Linked DNA regions of Homo sapiens. The protein of the gene in region 3 interacts with the protein of the main gene of each other region in a biochemical or structural test. Each region holds a gene or a part of one and is shown on either strand. Other genes may lie near its edges.

Region 1 (7,180 bases), on a different chromosome or scaffold from region 3:
GCCTGAAGACCTGGTTAGTCAAAACTCATATTCTTTCCCCATAGAAATAAATTTGAAGTAAGGAAGATGGCAAAGCCTGCATATGGATCTATAACTACCTAATTCAAGAAGAAGCACTCAATGGAAAAATCAGAAGTAATGCTGAGAAAATGCAAGTAAATTCACTATACTCCAGAGCATGGCAGTTACCTGGGTATAAGCCAAATTGCTTCTAAAATCACTGGCATTCAGTAGCATTTTTAGCACTAGGACTGACACCACCACTTACCAAATCCTTGGATGACATTATTATGAGAGATTAAAGATTTACAATTATAAAAACAGTAACTGTTAAAATAGCATAAAAATTAGTAAACTCACTGGCAGAAGTTCCAATTAATGTAAAATTCTGCAAAGTTCAGAAATATTGGTGTTTCTGTTTACCAGCAAATGTGATGGTGCCATGTGGCAATAATGTAAACAGATTTTACATTGACCTGAGGTTATAATTTTCAAATTTTGAGCATAATGATGTTTACTGACATTTTAATAATATGCTCAGTTTAAATAATTTGGGTTTGCACAGACACATACCTCAATTCGCCATTTCATTGGCTTGTATAGATACAACACACCTCTCAAGAATTTTAAGATCTAGGACAACGCTGCCATTCAGTTTTTCGTTCTGCAAACCGTTGGTGAGCACCTGCCAGAATTCTGCTGGGTGCATAATAGATACTTAATACATATCCAATCTAGAATTTTCACTCAAATCACATTTCACCAGATATCTACAAATAAAGATTTCCAGATCTCCACTGAAGACCTACTTATTTTAAATAATCTGGCATATGAAAAGAGGGTGATTTAAGTTATATTTTGATATTTGCAAGCATTTGCTATTTTTACTACAGATCTGACCAATAGAGGCTCTATAGATATAATATCAAAAAGAGTAAACAATGTAGAGTAGAAATACAAAAAAATTAACCTAGAAGATCTCCAAATCCATCCAGATAATCACACCACAACCTCTGGAAATCAATTATCCCATCAATTCTTTTCTGTATCACAGTCCGTCCACCTCCTCTGTAATCCATGTCACACATTACCTAAAATAAGCACAGAGAAGACCAAAATAATACACTATTATTTTCATTATTTGATAATATAACACTCATGCTTCATCCTTAGGCTTAGAAAAAGAGACGGTACTGCCACTGAGTTTTCAATGCAATCATATGCCATTAATTTATTCAGATGTTTTTTATATTTCTAGAAATAATACTGTTTATTATAAAGCAAACCTGTAATTAACCTAAATAATACTGTTTATTATCAAACAAATTTGTAATTAACTTAATCACAGTCCTTATAACAATCATTTTTAAAAATATGTATTTGCAGCTTTTTTTTCCCCCCTTTTTTTTTGAGACAGAATCTCCCTCTGTCGCCCAGGCTGGAGTGCAGTGGCGCGATCCCGGCTCACTGCAAGCTCCGCCTCCCGGGTTCACGCCATTCTCCCGCCTCAGCCTCCCGAGTAGCTGGGACTACAGGCGCCCGCTAGCACCCCCGGCTTTTTTTTTTTTTTTTTTTTTCTTTTGTATTTTTGTATGTTTTAGTAGAGACGGGGTTTCGCTGTGTTAGCCAGGATGGTCTCGATCTCCTGACCTCGTGATCCTCCCGCCTCCGCCTCCCAGAGTGCTGAGATTACAGGCGTGAGCCACCGCGCCTGGCCGTATTTGCAGCATTTTAAAGTTATCCTCTTATTACTCAACTTTATAAATATTCTTCAGTTTGTATAACAGTATTGCTCTGATGTGGCAGAGCAATGTATTTCTCTATAAACTAAATTTTGAATTAAAACACTGGGGGTGGGGGGGTGTGTGTGCACGGCTAAATATTTCACGTGCTTGTCTTTGCTCTTTTCTCCCACAAACCTGGAAGGCCTGTTTTCAGACTGGCATTTTCAGAGAAAGGCATGATCTGTGCCCACTCAGCAGGTGCTCATAGACACATCTGTTGATGCTGTGTAAAATGCCCCTAAAAGGACCTCTGTAGGGCACCCATAGAAGCGATATAGGGAAGAAATCAGAGCAAAATTCTCCCTCAGAAACTTCCCGCATAGAGACAGAGAAAAGGCAGTGTGGAGGAAGTTAAGGAACCAGCACTTTCCCACAAAAGAGGTGATTATGCATCCCACTCTTCATAAAATTAGAAGCCTTCCTTTTCCACATCTGTTCAGATCCAGTTTTGAATCTGTAGGTGAAGTAACTTAGGTAATTTTAAAATTATTTCCCACCTAATTTCCAATTTTTTGACATCTTGTCAATAGATTCCAAATAAAATAATGGTAGTAACTCTAAGAAGAGAAACCGGTAGTATTTACTTAGAAAAAAAGTGACTTTATTATCCAATAAAGACTATCAATAAGGTATAAGTATCATAAACTTTCTTCTGCACAAAGAAGTGCCCAGGAAAATATATATATAATATATATAACTGTATGTGTGTGTGCGTGTGTATATATACACACACACATATATATTCCATCAATATGCATAGTCTCTAGTAGAAATTTCTACTAGATATCCTTGCAGAGAACTACTAAGAATAGACATAAGAGTAATTTATTTTATCAATTTCAGAATGAATCAGCTTTTCAGTCTGCCTTGTACCCCACTGAAAGGTTTTTTAATTATTAATTTCTCATACAATCACATAAAATCATCTATCATCAGAAGAAATTATAACCATATACAGGAAGGGAAGTCAAAAGTATTTTTAGTAAGCTCCAAGGCAAAGCACACCATTATTTTCCAATATCCACAGGCTAATTAAAGCAAGCAAGTATTTATATTGCATAGTTCTGCCTGCTATAGTTCTGCCTGTTACGAGGATAATACAAGCTTTTGCATCACATGGATTTACTTTAAAGAGTATAACCATGGAAACTCAAATAGAAAAGTGAAAGACAGACTCTAGCTCTTTTATTAATTCATGTTTTGGGCATTAGAATTCTAAAAAACCAAAATTTTGAAAGTAGAACTTTACCTAATTTATTTAAAATTTTTTGAGGAAAAATTAAATATTAAAACAATTTAAATTTTAACATAAATTAAATTGGTTGGATGTTTATCTTAGCCCACATAATACGGGAAAACTTCAAATACGGGAAATACCTCAAATGGGTAGCTAGATCCTTCTGGGTGAATTATGTATAAACCACTCGGTGTTTTGGTGACAGAGCCAATGGTATCCTTAATATCAGTGCAATCTAAACCTAGAAAAGCAAAATTATTTAATTGGGATATTTTCAAATGTACATTTAAGGCAATCATTTTACTATAGAGAATTGATAGTGCTATTATCATAATTTTCATTATTATATTATTTTAACTTCTTCAAAATGAAAAATGGTCACAATTTTAGAAATAAAAAGAAAATATAAGGGATTAAAGAATTTATGCTGCAATAAGCCTTCACTTATAATGTCACTGTTAGTGATTAGTTTCCTATACTATTTAAAAGTTTCATTTGGGATCAACACTTATTAAACATATTTTATAATTACACATTCTCTTTACCAATAAATAATGCCATTTCAGAAATTTAGGTTTATCTTAGAGAATGTAATGTGTAAAGGAAATCTACATGAATAGGGAGGAGAAAACCAAAAGGAATAAGTAGATTAACCACTACAGACACATATTTCACTATTCTATTCCCAACTTCAGAGACTGATGTGTTTGGGACCACTAATACAAGTAGCCAAAGGAAGAAAGGGGAAAATCACTTTCTTCCCCAAGAAATTATGCCTGATGTTAGAGCCTACTCTGTTAACAACAGTTAGAATTATAGCACCCCATAATCACCTTCTCCAAAGCACTCATCTCCCCAGGATTGTAAACACGTGTATGTGGATATGGATATTACATTTTCTGGAAGATACTCTACTCTGTAGCATCTTTTATAAGTGAAATAAATTCAACCCTTAGAGCGTCCATTATCCAAATGCCCATCTTAACATCCTAGTTCTACTCCTAACACTTTACTTCATAGTGTTATCCTAACTATTTACGTAGTAAGGTATTACATAAAGCCTTTACCATAGTGCCCAGCACACCCAAATAATGAAGAAAATGCCATCTACAAAAAGTTAGCTATAAAAAGTCACTTGTTTTCCCCTTCGTCTCTGGGAGACATAGATTTGTTGTTGCCTGTATCCTTAATTGTTAAGAGATATTCTTATAATGACTTTATGCTCAGAGACATGAAAGAAGTTCACGCTGAAGGACCGATCTGGGTTGGAGTGTCTGCTATGTCATTACCTTTCAAATTAATGTGAACAGATTATTTCGATTTTTCTGGGCTGGATATTTCTTATCTGATGATGATGATCATAGCAAGCAAGCCCTTATATTGTTCTGCCTGTGATTCGGGCATTTTTTTTATTTCCTTGTGATAAACATTTGATTCGGGCAATATTTTAAGAGACTTTCCTGTATTTATTCACTTAATCCTCACATCAACTGTAAGAGGTAGGTACTATCAGTTTACTGATGAGAAAACATATCAAGAGAGCAGCAAGCAAGAAATTTGAAACCAAGGAGTCTGACATCAGAGTCCATGCTCCTGACTACCACATTATGCCTGCTTTGGGGCAGTTATGAGATATAATAAAATAATTTTAATAACAAAATAATGTGAGAAAGTGCCTGTCTTCCTACCTATCACATAGAAGATTTTTAGGCACTGTTTATTGTCTTCTTTTTCGAAGAAGGACATAAAGATCATGTTCTAGGCCCTCAATAATATTTATTTGCTTTAAACATTTGGGGATAAATTCATATTTATAAGATTTATAGGGTATTTTTCTTAGAAGTCCAAACCTCTAGGAATTAATATGCTGTATTTTAGTATAAAAAGTGCTAACTTTCAGTTTATTCTTGTCTTACATTTCTTTTTCTTTTCAAATTTTATGCCCCAATTTGAAACATTTCAAACATGTCAAAAACATTTTTTACAGGTGGGAGGAACTTTGAAACTTTCTTTTCTTCTATCTGAAGATGAATTATTAATAAGATATAAACTGGGAGTCCAGAACAAAGCTATAGAAAGCTATGTTATTTTCAACAGCTTCAGGATATCTTTATACAGCCATGGCTTTCACATGGTTGAAAAAGTTTCCCATTTTAAGAAAGTACACGTTGTCTATGGTGAAATTTGCTTAATAGCAGGTATTAGCCCTCCAGTCTGTTAGAGAACGGTGAGCTGTAGTTTTTAAATAAAACTTTTAAATGGATCGACCTGTCCAGGAAAATTTTAAGCAATAAAAGACAAACATGAAAAGGCTGAAATACCAAAGTTCTCACCATGTGACTGAACAGGTCTGTGAGGAAAAGGATCCAGCTGTTTTCTAAAAACTTCTGTAGTCAAAAGGAGAACTCTATTCATGAGCTCGTTAACCTAAACACATGCATACACATTTAAGTAAATTTATATTTGAAGAAATTGCCATCTCTAAGCCTCTCATAAACCCAGCTCTGAAATACGTAATGGTGCCCATTTTTCTAGATTGATTTCTTACTGCTTTAACAAAGAATAAAGGCAAAGCTAAATAGCAATCATTAAATTTCGTAGTATCTACCTCCTTAACGTTGATTTTATCTGCCCCGATTTCTGCATTTGGCTGCTCTTGCACATCTGCCCTTCATACCTTGTCCAAACCATTGCTGTAGTTTCTTACCTCCTCCTTTGGCTCTTCCTCAAGTCATTGGCCACACAAGTTAATCAGATTGTGGCATTTCCTTGCTTAAACACTACAGTGGCTCCTTGGTGTGGTATGACTTCGTTCTTGCCTATTCCTATAGTCAGTTTTCCTTAAATACTCAACCTCACCAGCCACTCCACCCTGTACCAACACCAAGAAGTTTCCCCAGAATGGAATGTCCTCTTCGCCTTACCCAACCTTTATGATTTTTAAAACATTTATTCATCCTTCATGACTGTTAACAGACTTTCTCCTCTGGGAAGCTTTTTGTATCTGAGAGTTCTCTTTTGTGCCATTCTAGCAACCACATTTTTGTCAACACATTTTAATGCTCCACTAGACCATACCCCTTGAATTAAGTTCGATTTTTTTACTGCTTTTTGTTTGCCTAAAGTTTACTATGGTGCCTCTAACATGGTAGGCGCTAAATAGATGTCTGAACATGAATGCATTTTAAAAAAAGATTATACCTCCAGCTAACTATACATCAACGTGTACATGCAATAACAACACAATACTAAAACATCTATACCTGATTAGATAAATAATCCAAGGAAGCTTGTTGCTCATCCATCATATTCCTTAGTAGTTTTTTGGTACTTCTTGTGTAGGAAACAATAGAATTTTGCAAATTTCCTTAACCATAATAAAAAGTGGCTGTTAAATATTATATTGTTACAGAAAACAATTACAGTGAAAAATAGTGAATTTTACCTGATTTTGGATATGTATGTTAACTCAATACTATCTCAATTTATCTTAATACTCAGAATTACATATTTTAGTTAGTATATCTTTTGTTTAACTCAGGATTAACCCCAGAAATGATTGTCTCAATACTTCTTAATGAAACTATGCTTCCTACTAATATAGATTACCCAGAATAATTAATCTGTTATCATTAAGAGACAGTGTTCTGATTATAAATTCTCACTTTATAAGATGAGATATATAGAGGCAGGAGTTATAGGATTCATCAATTCTTACTGTAAAAGAAAGTTAGTGGTGACAGTTTTATACCAGGCAAGTTAATTTTAAAAAGTACATCTTTGTTTTAATTTTTCTATTAATACTATATTTACACAATTAAATTGCTAGCACATACATATACATACACATAATAAATGTTAGTCAAAGGTTTTGGTTATTTGGTTTCTGACTAAACATTTACTATACATTTTCCTTTTAAAAATGTTTTTATCTTAAGAGAAAATTTCTTATAGCGAAGTTGCGATAACAGTACAAATAACTTTTTCCTAATGCCTTTGAGACCATGTTGCCATGATGTACCGTCATGCTATTTCAGTGTATATTTCTTACACCAAAGACATTTCTAATAACATACCACCAAAATTAGGAAATAAACATTCACTACCTATATTTCTCAGACCCTATGTGAGTTTTACCCAAGATAGTAATAATGTTGCC
Region 2 (7,000 bases), on a different chromosome or scaffold from region 3:
AATAAGGCATATACATTATGTCATTTCATCCTCACCACAACCCTAGAAGGTAGGTTCTAGTTTTAGCATCCCATTTTACAGATGGGAAAACTAAGTCTCGAGAGGTTAACTTGCCCAAAGTCACACAGTTATGTGATTATGTGGGACTGGAACCCAGCTCTGTCTGGCTCCAAAGCCCCTGACTTCCTCTCACTTCAGTGCCTTGTTTAGACACCTCAACTTCTCTTATCCTGACTGTCACTGGGTCCCTGCCCAGTGTCGTCAGTAGCCACATCTGCTTTGGTTGCTGTCCTATCGAATGCTGCACCAACCCCTCTGAAAACCATGGACTTACTCAACTTTAGCGCATCCCTTGCTCTTCATGGAAGCCTACTTCTGAGGCAAAATAGGCATGACTGTTACTCTTAGAGATGAGCCTCAGCACAGTTATGAGGGTACCTGTTATGTGGTAATATGGTCAGTGACAAGAGGAACTGAGCTTCGAAACCAGGTTGGCTGACTTGTTCCACGTGCCTGGGTGCTCTGCGATACTGTCTCACCACATCAGCACCAGGAAACTCTGTCCCCAGCTCAGTGGGGGCAGAGCCTCAGGGAAACACTGGTCCATGTGACTAAGATACTATTGATGCGCTTTCTACATCCGTACTTGGAGGCTCCTTTAGGACTGAAGAATCAGAGCTCAGGTCCTCATCACCCACACTGGGCCACACACGAGCAATTTCTGAGAAAACATCAGGGAGATGGCAATGGGTAGCTACAATAGAACAAACATAACAGACAGCAGCCCTGCCAAAGCAGGTACATTCAGCAACTGGCCTCTCTGAATCACAGCCCATTTAATCTGGAATGGTCTCAACTGACAGCAGGCAGATGGGGGAGGGGCTCTGCTTCATAGAGCCCACAGCCCAGCAGGACTGGGCAGACAGTAAATAATCACACAAACACACAACTGTGTGAAAGCTGTAAAGAGGTGGCACAAGGAGCTAAGAGGGTCCTCAAGGTGGGTGGTGCTGTCCCCGTCTTACAGAAGTGGAAACTGGGGGTCAGGGTGCAGCACCTCTCCCACGGTCTCTCCATGCATGGGCCAAAAAGCAAAGATTGAAACCCAGACCTGTGCTGGTTCCACCCCAGCCTGCTGCCATCCTGGACAACCACACTGTGGAAATCTCAAGAAAGAATCAATTCATTGAATAGCATTTCTTTTTTGTGAATTTATATAAAACACCCCAAATAGAAGAGTTATTCAGCCACAGGCAGCTTGGAGTTTGTGGTGATACACTGGTCACGTCAGAAGCCTCATTCTGGGGGTAGTTTCTATGACAAAACTGTGTTCTTTCACATGGACTGTGAGCCATATGACTGAGTTCATAACAGTGTTGGGGGTTACAACGTTACGATGGCCTGTCACATGTACACATCAATCACAAGCCACATTTTGGTCCCAGGAATGTTAAAATGTTGGGTGTGGCAGGAGAATCCCTTGAACCCGGGAGGCGGAGGTTGCAGTGAGCTGAGATCGCGCCACTGCACTCCAGTCTGGTGATAGAGCAAGACTCCATCTCAAAAATAAAAAATAAAATGTTGGGTGTGGGGAGCCAGGCCTCTCACAACTGAACTATTGTGTCAGTCCATTCTCTGCTGAAATCAGCCTGTCTGGGGCCAGCAGCCCCAGAGCCTCAGCAACCCCCTGCTGCCTAGTTGTCCAGACAGGCAGTACCAAGACCACCAAGGAAAAGCCCAGAATGGACTCTGTTCTTATCTTCAAGAGATGCCTGAGGACCTGCCCAGCTCCAAGAATCCTTAAAGTCCTGCCTGAGGTGGTCCCACTCCAACCTCCATGAGGGAAAGGCTGTGTCTGTCTCAGTTACTGCCGAATCTCTAATACCCACTCAGGGCCAGGTAGAAAAGATATCTGTGGAATGAATGAATCAATGAAGCAAGCCTCAGGCCCAGGCTCTCAAGCAAACAAGCTTCTCTACCCCAGGGTGCCACACCATTCCTCTCTCTGTTGTCCAGCCAAGGGCTTTTCTGAGGCTAGGTCAGGTGCCCCACAGCCCCCCAAGTTTCCCTATCTGGGCATGGATCTCTTTGCATTACAAATGCCTAGTCTCTGTCTCACCTACTACCGTGGACCCCTTGAGGGTAAGGACCTCACCCACCTTGTTCCTGTTCTACCTCCAGCCGCTGGCACAGTGGCTGGAAGAGGAGAACTTATTGGGAAATACATTATACAAATGAAGTTCTTGAATTCCTATTTAGTAACCTAGGTGCCATCCTGGATACTCAGTAGTCAGAGGAGGAATCTGCCCTGGCCCTGCTTTTTAAAGAAGCTGTAGTCAGGAGGGAGATAACCAGATGACTGCAATCTGAGTCTTGGGTGTTGAGTTGGAAGCAGCCACAGCTGCACTTGTGAGCTGAAGGAGGGAGGGAAGACCTCACTGAATGGATGGCTTCATGGTGAGGTCAACTTAGGAAGACAGGCAGGCATCAGCCAGGACAGTGGGGGAAGGTACTCGAGGCAGGAAGCACAGCACATGCAAAGGCAGGGAGGCATGACAACACAAGGTCTGTTTTTAAGCAGGACGCTGACATGATCAGATGTGGGTGTCAGACAGACAGCCCTGGAGCTGCATGCAGTGTAGACTGCAGGGGAGAGAGCACCCAAAGGCAGGGAGGCCAATTAGGATTGTGTGGGTAAGAAACCTGGCCCTGGGTTAGACAAATCTGTTACTGGGCCCAGCTCCACCACTTGGTAGCACTGTGCCCCTGGACAAGTGGCTTCATCCCTTACCTTTGTTTGCTCATCTGTGAAATGAGGATAGTCATAGCCCCTGCCTCAAAGAGCTACCGGGATCAGTGAGGCAGACACAAACATTGGTTGTCCCAGTGTTTGAGGAACAAGTCCATCCAAACAGCCAAGGTGGCCCTGGTGCCAACTTCTCAGCCTGGTCCAGAAAAGCAGCCCCAGGCAAGGCCTGGACTTCCCAAGAAAGTCACCCTGGGGCAGTGCTGTCCACCCAGCCCTTGACTTCTCCCTCTTGTCTAGGGCTTTCCCAGTTGTAGGGCTCCAGAGCACACTAGGCACTGCCGGAAATGCAGCAGCCAACTCAGAAGCTGGACTCTGAAATGGCTTCTGCAGACTCTTCCCCGCCTCTGCTCTGTTGGCCAAGGCTCCTGGCACAGAGGCCTCAGTGCACAGACTTTGGGGGAATCTCAAAATGGTTCCCAAATAACGCACTGTGAAAAAGTAACAGCAGTGTCCTTGTCCCCCGGAAAAGGCAACCAGCTCCCCCACTCCCTAACCACATCCCCCTCTACCCTATGATCTCATGGTGTGACCACAACCCGCCTCCTCCATGAACTCTTCCTGGAGCCAGCAATTCACCAATGGCAGGAGCACAAGAGCCCAAAGCATCAGGCAGATTCGAACCCCCAGTGCTACTCCTCCAGGCAAATCTGTCTTACCCTGCTTCTCTGACTCATGGCTCCCATCACCCATGACAGGTAGTAGCAATGCACAATGGCTAGCTGCATGGGAAGGCTAAATGGGTGGGTGATGGAGGGCTGGATGGATGGATAAATGGTTCATTCAATGGTCTTATGAGAGCTGAACTAGAAGGGTTTGGGAATTGACTCCAGACTCCCCAGGTGCCTTCTGGTGGGGAATCATTCATAGCATCCTCAGCCAGGAGGGGAGGGCAGCTGGAGATCTGGATATGCCCTCCCTGGCCTCCGGGCTGATGGTGAATCATCCAGGACAAACAATGCACAGTCCTTTCACCAGGTTCTCCAAGGTGAGGGTGTCACTGCTCATCCCAGATGCCCATTTTGGGGTCTTACCACTTGCGTGATCAAGCAGCTCTTTCCAACATCCAACAAAACACACCCTTGTGCTGACCTGAAAGCTATTTCTACTTATTCAGTCAACAGTGAGTAACATGCAAGCTGCATCTCAGCCATTAAACAAACAAGCACCTTTTATTCATACTGGTTGAAGAGACAATCTTGATGCAAGGCAGGGTTTGGACCTAGCAGTTGACAGCTAAATCCCAGTTGTGATATTTACTTCCAAGTGATCTTGAACAAGCGACCTAACCTTTCTAGACTTGGGTTTCCTCTACTGCCAAATGCAGATATAATACCTTTCTCTTAGGTAATGGGATCATATAGTTTGTTGCTCAGTCAGGACAATATTGAGAGTGAAAAGGGGGTGCTATTAATAACTACATAAGACCGCAACCAGCATGGCGAAACCCTGTCTCTACTAAAAATACAAAAATTAGCCAGGTGTGGTGACAGGCACCTGTAATCCTAGCTGCTCAGGAGGTTGAGGCAGGAGAACTGCTTGAAAGCGGGAGGCAGAGGTTGCAGTGAGCTGAGATGGTGCCATTGCACTCCAGCCTGGGTGACAAGAGCGAAACTCCATCTCAAAATAATAATAATAATAATAATAATTACGTAAGACAACAGACCTCAACTGGGGCCAACCAGGATGTATGGTCCCCTACTCATAGAGCTATTAAGAGCCAATGAGATAGAGTACAGCTGGGCACCCAAATTCACAACAAACGACAGCCATTATTAGCAATACTACTGGTCACCTGATCAGCTGGGCCTTTTCCTTCATCTGGATCCCTCCCACATCTTGGATTACCAACTGGTTTGGATACTTCCCTACCAGCACACCATACATTTCAACAGCTTAGTAGGAACACCTGCTAGCTAATGTTGATGTTTTCATCTGTCTTCTGTCCTGATGATAGTTTCACAAACTTGATTCATGCTCAGGTCCACCAGACTCACTCAAGCACAGCTCAGGCTTCTAGCTTCCCAGAACCCCGACGTCAGGGGCCAGCTGGCAGTTCCAGATTCCCTGACTGCCTTGGCAGAGGCCCGCTTCTCAGGCCTCCTGCAGTGCTGGGATGCCTCTTATGGCGTGGACCCATTATTGGCCTTCATCTGTGATCACAGACCAATGGGCAGTGCTGACCAGAGGACGGGTGGTGAGGGGGTGGTTCTGTAAGTCCTCCAGGCAGGACTACAACCTGGACTGATGATGAATCAACTCCTGAGATCCGGATTTAATTTGGAGGCTTCCCTGGGATCTGCAGGCCTAATGACGGCAAGAGCACTCCTGTCGTCGTCCTGCCTAGAGGGTCAGAGAACAACCTCTTTTGGGTTTCCAGTCACTTTGGCACTTTGGTTTCTCTTTATTCACAGTATGGTATCTTTGGGGGTTATTTTGGGATCTGTTAGTGGCTCTACTACTTATTAATTTGTGATTTGGGCAAATGACTCACGATCCTCAAATCTCAATAGTTTCCTCAACTGCAAATAGGGATAAATGTCAGCTTTGCTGTTAGCCTTAAAAGTATCTTTGTGGGCATCAGAAAATTGCTACAATATAAATATAAAAAACATAAAGACTATGAATGTGAGTTGTGTCCCCTAGAGTAGCACAGTGCTCAAGTGGGGCCACCATGCATGGCGGCCCTCAAATAACAGGCCGCCTTCCGAGGGCTGTTGGGAAGATTAAGTGAGATAATGTATATAAAGTGCTTGAGCCATAGTGACAATTTATTGTTGTTATTCTTTTAATTGCTGGAACTTTTCTCATTTCTAACCTTTGGGGTGAACTCAAAAGAGGATCCCAGGCCGGCAGCTTCTGCTGCAGGGCAGAACACACAGCTCCATCTGATGAAAATGACAGCTCTTCCCACAAAGTGGCCCCTTGCTTGGGCTGTGGCACCACAGTGGTGAGAGGGATGCGGACACATGATGTGTGGCCCCACCACATCAGGCCAAGCGGGGACATTCAGAGGCAGCCCACCGGAGACTGGGTGGGACCCAAGCCCTGGAGAGGCTGCCTCCCAGTGTACAAAGGCTGTCACGTGGCACAGTCACACCAGCCTCACTTGTGGGGAGGGAAAACCCATGCGTGATGGAAACTCCTCACAATACAATGTGGAAAAGCAATTTTAAGAATCGTTTTTATTTTAATTCTGAAGCCAAGGAAAACAGTTGGATTTGCTTTTCTTTGTTGGACACAGGAAAAAAGTGAGGAGCATCACTTTGATTGGAGTTGAGTTCTTCTTCAGTCCTAAGATGGCTGGAATGCCGGGGTGGGGGTGGGGGGTGTTACTTCTCTTGAGATACAATGAGTTGAATAAATATCAAGAGAGCAAAAGTAAACAAACTTATTACTGCCCATTAAGAGCCGCCAAACTGGCAAAAAACTGCTGGGGGGAGGGGAGGAATTGGGGTTGGAGTCTTGGACTCCAAGGAAAATAAATGACTCTGAGGCTCAAAGAGAAGCCCAAGGAGCATGGCCCTTGGTATCAGGTTGACCCAAGTCCTAGGCTCAGTCACCTTTGGCTGTTATCTGCCGTGTGTTCCTGGGCAAATCACTGAGCCTGTTTGGGTTGCAATGTCTCCGTTGATAAAACAGGGGTGAATAACAACCCACCGGATTACCTGGGACAATGTATGTCAGGCGCCCAGCACAGTGCCCTGTTCCTTCCCTTCCTTCCTGTAACCCAATCAGTTCTGAGTCACCCCCACTAAGCCTAGGCCCCACAGAGGTGTAACAGTAGGACTCAGAATCAATGTAGTTACAAGAGGTCCCACTGCTCGCAACATGACCTCAAAGTCAGCTACCCCTACACCTTTTTGAGCTTCAGTTTCCTCAGCCTAGAAATGGGCATAACACTAGTAAGTCACTCTGAGTGTTGGAATGATTAGATGAGAGAATGTTGATGTGAAGGGTCTGGAAGCCCTAAAGCCCTGTGCAAGCATTAGTCAAGGAGATGGTGTGAGTGCTTGGCACACTGCCTGGCCCACACCCAGCATCCTCACTGTTGTTGGTTTTGTTTCAGCTTTGTTGTTCTTGCTATCGTATTGCTAACACATTATTCCAATCTCCCGCTTCTGATGCACTTCCATGCTGCTCACCTAGTGTGCAAGGTGGGTTGGATCATCCCATTTCACAGAAAAGACTCAG
Region 3 (4,979 bases):
AAATGCTGCAGAAAGAAATCGTAGATGACACAGCAAAATAGAAATATATCCCATGCTCATGGATTGGCAGAATCAATATTGTGAAAATGATCACACTTCCCAAAGCAATATTTAGGTTCAATGCAATTCCCATCAAAATATCAACATCATTTTTTTCACAGAATTAGAAAAAAATCCTAAAATTCATATGGAACCAAAAAGAGGATGAATACCAAAGCAATCTTAAGCAAAAAGACAAATGTAAATTTAATAAACATATCCTAGGCTGAATTGTAGGGGGTTTGTTTTTGCTCACTTCAACCTCCACCTCCCGGGTTCATTCAAGTGATCCTCCTGCCTCTGCCTCCCAAGTAGCTGGGATTGCAGCGTGCGCCACCATGTCCAGCTAATTTTTGTATTTTTAGTAGAGATGGGGTTTTGCCTTGTTGGCCATGCTGGTCTTGAACTCCCGGCCTCAAGTAATCTGTGGCCTCTGCCTCCCTAGGTGTTGAGATTACAGGCGTGAGCCACCGCACCCGGGCACATTGCCTCTTTTTCTATTCTCAAGAAACATTTGTGATGCTCTGGGTGTGTTTGTGTGTTTCATTAGTGCGTCAATATTTGTAAGAAATCACCAGTGAAACTTCCTGAACTGGAGTTGATACGATGGGAACATTTTTATTACAGTCAATGTTTTTCACACACACACACACACACACACACACACATATATATACACACACATACACACACATTTAAAATGAGTCAGATTCTCTGATTACTCTTACGTTCATTATGTAAACTCCAGTTTTGAATATTTCATCCATTTAATCTGCATTTTCTAGTATATTGGTATAGGTTTGCAGCCTGTTCTGGGGTTAGTTTGTGAAAATGTGTGTAGGATCTGCTGGGCTGTCTGCTGGCTCACTCCCATATGGAAATGCGTGCCTGCTCTTTCTTTCTCTTGCTCAATGTAGTTAGGATTTATGACTGTAATTAATATTTTCAAGAATGAGCTTCATTGGCTTTGTTGAATTTTCAAGTTTTGGTTTTTCCTCATGAGCAACTCTTCTTCTTCTTATTCCCTTTCTTACACCTTCATTTGGAATAATTGGTTATTCTTTTTCTAAATTCCTTATACGAAAGCCAACGTCATTCATTTCCTAGTTTTTTTTTTTCGTTTCTACTTTTTTCATTTGTGGTTTGTACTTTTTCAATTTCATTGTGTGATGTGTAATATTTATATTGTGATTCAGTTTAAAGCACATTCTTACTTCTGATTTTAGTTTTCTCGGTTAACTCATTGATTATTGAGAAGTCTGTTGCTTTAATTAAAAAATGTAGGGATATTAGTTATTTCGACTGCAGAATCAAGTGAGTCCCAAAGTTCCCAGCATCTCCTCATGGTCTTTGTTAGGGGTCCAGGCTGACTGGGGTTCATTGGTGTCCACTGGGGGCAGCTCCCGTGCCTTCAGCAGTCCTGAGTCTCCTTCTACTGAGTGTGGAGTCTGCGTACCCTCCGGGCTAGTGGATGGCCAGGGTGGCGTAGATGCTGGGCTCAGCTGGAGGTTCCCTTTCCTGGGATGGAGGAGGCTCAGTTGCCTTCCGTCTGAGGGTCAAGCTGTGCAGCTGGGCGTAGGTCACATCCTGGGGGGCTTCAGATGCAGCAGCCTGCAGCGGGGGAGAGTGAGAGGTAAGGAACGTGGTGGGGGTGGGGGAGGCCTGGGGGCCTGGAGAGGAAAGGACTCTCTCAGTGTCCATCTGTCTGTCCTCTTCTGCCTGTCTGTCCTTTGTGTCCAGGAATTCCCCGGACAGTGGGGAGGGAGGAGAGGCCATTTCTCTCCTAGGTCTGGAGTGTTTCACCGGGGCATATGTCACTGCCTGGGGGTCTTCATCATGTGGGCTCTGCTGGAGAGAGACAGTGGTGGGGGGTGTCCTTGAGTCCCCCTGACCTCCTGGAGTCAATTTTCCTCACTGTTCCCGGGGTGATCCGATTACATCCCTTTCCCGATGGAATCTCAGGGACGCCCTAAGGCCGTGGAGGGTCTGGCCGCTCCCTTCCTGTGGTTCTGGCCTCTGCTCCTCACTTTGACCTTGCCCATTTGGCTGCAGCCTCATGGGCCTTCCCGCAAGAGCTCGCTGCTGCCTCGGGGCCTTTGCACGGCTGTTTCCTCTGCCTGCAGGGGCTCGTCCATTAGAGGATCGTGTGCCCCACTCTGTCCAGGCTTCTCAGATGACAGCTGAGCAGACAGCCCTCCCCTTCCATTCAGACTGGCCCCACTGCCCCACACTCTCTGCCCTTTCCCTGGTGTATGTTCCTTTAAGCACGTTGCACTCCTGGACATGGCGCATTTATTTGCATTTTGTCTCCCACCATGAGGTGAGCTCAGGAGGCGGGGGCGGCTTTGCTCCCTGCTGTGTCTGCAGCTCCCATGGGGAGCCTGATCCACAGTGAGCTCCCTGGGAACACTCACTGGTTGAATGAATGAAGGGGAGCCCAGGGGACCGGGGTGGTTCATTTATTCCTCATCCTCCAGAGGCCTGGGGAGCGCTCTAACAACCAGACGGCCAAACAGAGGATGAGGAGCAGGAAGGGGACCCGGGAGGAGGCCCACGAGGTCCCAGGACAGCAGGAGAGAGTGAGGTCACAGCAGGCGGGAGGCAGCGTGCTGGACAAGGAGGGGTCCACCGTGACGATGCTGAGAGCCGGGGGAAGGAGGACAGAGAAGTCCTGCTGGATTAGATCTGGCACCAGGAGGCCTTTGGTGCCTGGGACAGGGGCGGGGTCTCACCCGAGTGTCCATCTCCACCCCATCTTCAGGCTGTGTGTCCTTCACGGCAGCATCTGCTGGGGCAGAGCAAGGGGTTCGTCTCTTGGGAAGGTTCCCTGGGACCTCTGAGTCCTGCCAGCCCCTGCCCTGCTCCCAGATGGGGCTACTGAGATGCAGGGAGGGGCTGCAATGTCCCTGAGGTCCCACAGTGTGGGGTGAGATGATCTCACCCTGAGCCCCAGACCCTTTCCAGCCGGTGCCCCTTTCCCCATTGCTACGGAAACTTCGGGGCCCCTATCTCCCTCCTGGCTGGTCACCTCTTCCTCTCACTCACAGAGGTTTTCTTCCTGGGCGTCGGCAGCTGGGCTGGACCTGGGGGAGGAATGGGAGCTTTAGGGGCAGTGTATGGGCCACGAGCAGGTGGGAGTCTGGGGTCTTCGGGCAGAATTACCTCCACTGCAGGCCTCTGTCTGTGGGCTCTGGCCCCACAGCCCCTGCAGGATGTTGGAAATCAGCCTTTCTCTGGGCTGGGGGAAGAAGGACAGAGCCTCAGCCCTGGGAACATTGGAGCCCCCTGCCCTGCACACACAGCTCGAAGGTAAGGAAGGAAACCTAAAAACACTCCTGCCTCCATGTTCCAAATGCCTCATGAGATGGACAGAGTCCGAAGGACACTTTACATTTGTAGATGGGACTGAGCCCGGAGGACACTTTATATTTGTAGATGGGACTGACGTTAAGTGCTTTCTCCATTCACCTGGTGAGAAATGCTGGAACAGTTTCTCAAAGCTGCATTTGCCCAGTGGTTTGGATTCTCTTTGGCTGTGCCCTGAGCCCACCCTCGGTCGGCCCACAGGGTTTCCCCTTCCCTACTCACTCGATGTCCAGTGTTTGCCCTGACGTCGATGTCGGAGGATGAGGAAGAGGAGGAGGAGGAGGAGGAGCAGTAGGACGACGGCCACCAAGATGCCGATCACAACCCCCAGGTGCCTTCCCAGACCTTGAGCACGATGATGTCAGGGATGGGGGTGATGTCATTGAAATGAGCGCCTACTGTGTGCAGGTGACTGCTGGACCTTCTGTTCACCACCTCCAACCCCCACAACAGTCGTGCAGCACACAAACATCCACCCCACCCACTCTACAGATGAAAAACTGACGCTCAGAGAGGGGAATCGCCTGCCCCGGGCCCCCAGCCAGGAAGCGGCAGAGCTGGGAAGGGAGCCTGGGAGTCTGACCTGCAGCCCTTGTTCCTGCACCAGAGCCGAGCCCCGGAGCTGCAGGGAAAGAGCCTTACCGTCCTGAACCACGACTCTGCTCCCCTCCCCTGCCCCAGGTCACCGTCTCTGCTGCAGGTGGGACGGGACAGGCCCCCGCGGAATCGAGTCTTGGAGTCTTCCCTGAGGGGCCTCCTCTCCCAGGAGGTCACAGCTGGGAGTGAGAGCTGAAAGGAACTTTCCCACCTGCAGGCCTCTCTCCTTTACACTTGGAGAAACTGAGGCCCAGGCAGGGGAGGAGCCTGTCTACATCACCACCTCCAGAGGAGCCTGAACCTAGGACAGAACCCACCCCTGCCTCCCCGGGACCCCGCCCACCTCCCACTCAGAGCCCCTCACTCACCACTTTGGGGATCCGACCCAGTGGGGGTGAGGGGCTGGTCCTCAGGGCCTGCTGGGTCAGGACGGGGAGGTGAGGGCTGGGGCTGCCCTGCTCCCCACATCAGCCCGGCTGCTCCTCCCCCAGGCTGGGCCCCAACATTTCTCTCTGCCTTGACCCCCCACCCCTCACCAGCCCAGCCTCAGAGCCCTGGGGACCCTGTGGCCCCTCCTCTGGCTCTGCCCAGCTCCCTGGACAGAAGCCCTTGATTGAGTCCCTGAAGGGAATGGGATCCTCCTGGACACTCAAAGCTGCCCTGGGGGTCGCTGCGCTCCCTTCGAGCCAGAGGCCTCAGGGACTCACCAGGTGTGGAGATGGGACCGGTGGGTGGGGGGCTGGAACCCATGGAGGGTCCTGGGTGAAAGAATGAGAGGAGGGTGAGGAGCTGGGGCTTTCCTGAAGTCTCCACCTCAAACCAAATTTCTCTACATGGGCCCTGTGGCCTCCCCAGGCCCCTCCCTCCACCCGCCTCTCCTGTCCATGATGCTGGCGATGCCGCTGAGTGTGCGCAGGCCTGGGAGGGCCTGTTGTCCTCCTTCCCTCTGAGGGTGAGTCTCCCACTGGCTGAGCCCC

Evidence for each region.
Region 1: the proteins of LILRB2 (region 3) and ANGPTL5 form a complex in vitro, tested with the Homo sapiens proteins (one study listed by IntAct).
Region 2: the proteins of LILRB2 (region 3) and ANGPTL2 form a complex in vitro, tested with the Homo sapiens proteins (one study listed by IntAct).

The regions. Positions count from the first base shown.
Region 1 is NC_000011.10:101,899,460-101,906,639, forward strand, and holds part of ANGPTL5 (angiopoietin-related protein 5 precursor), read right to left. Parts: intron 6,389-7,180; coding exon 6,285-6,388; intron 5,449-6,284; coding exon 5,355-5,448; intron 3,263-5,354; coding exon 3,162-3,262; intron 1,092-3,161; coding exon 971-1,091; intron 1-970.
Region 2 is NC_000009.12:127,112,636-127,119,635, reverse strand, and holds part of ANGPTL2 (angiopoietin-related protein 2 precursor), read left to right. Parts: intron 1-7,000. UniProt on the Homo sapiens protein: Induces sprouting in endothelial cells through an autocrine and paracrine action.
Region 3 is NC_000019.10:54,273,180-54,278,158, forward strand, and holds the end of LILRB2 (leukocyte immunoglobulin-like receptor subfamily B member 2 isoform 2 precursor), read right to left. Parts: intron 4,761-4,979; coding exon 4,710-4,760; intron 4,422-4,709; coding exon of another isoform or gene 4,419-4,421; coding exon 4,371-4,418; coding exon of another isoform or gene 4,363-4,370; exon of another isoform or gene 4,357-4,362; intron 3,801-4,356; exon of another isoform or gene 3,751-3,800; coding exon 3,628-3,750; intron 3,278-3,627; coding exon 3,202-3,277; intron 3,123-3,201; coding exon 3,085-3,122; intron 2,825-3,084; coding exon 2,772-2,824; intron 1,651-2,771; coding exon 1,504-1,650; 3' UTR 633-1,503; downstream 1-632. UniProt on the Homo sapiens protein: Receptor for class I MHC antigens. Recognizes a broad spectrum of HLA-A, HLA-B, HLA-C, HLA-G and HLA-F alleles. Involved in the down-regulation of the immune response and the development of tolerance.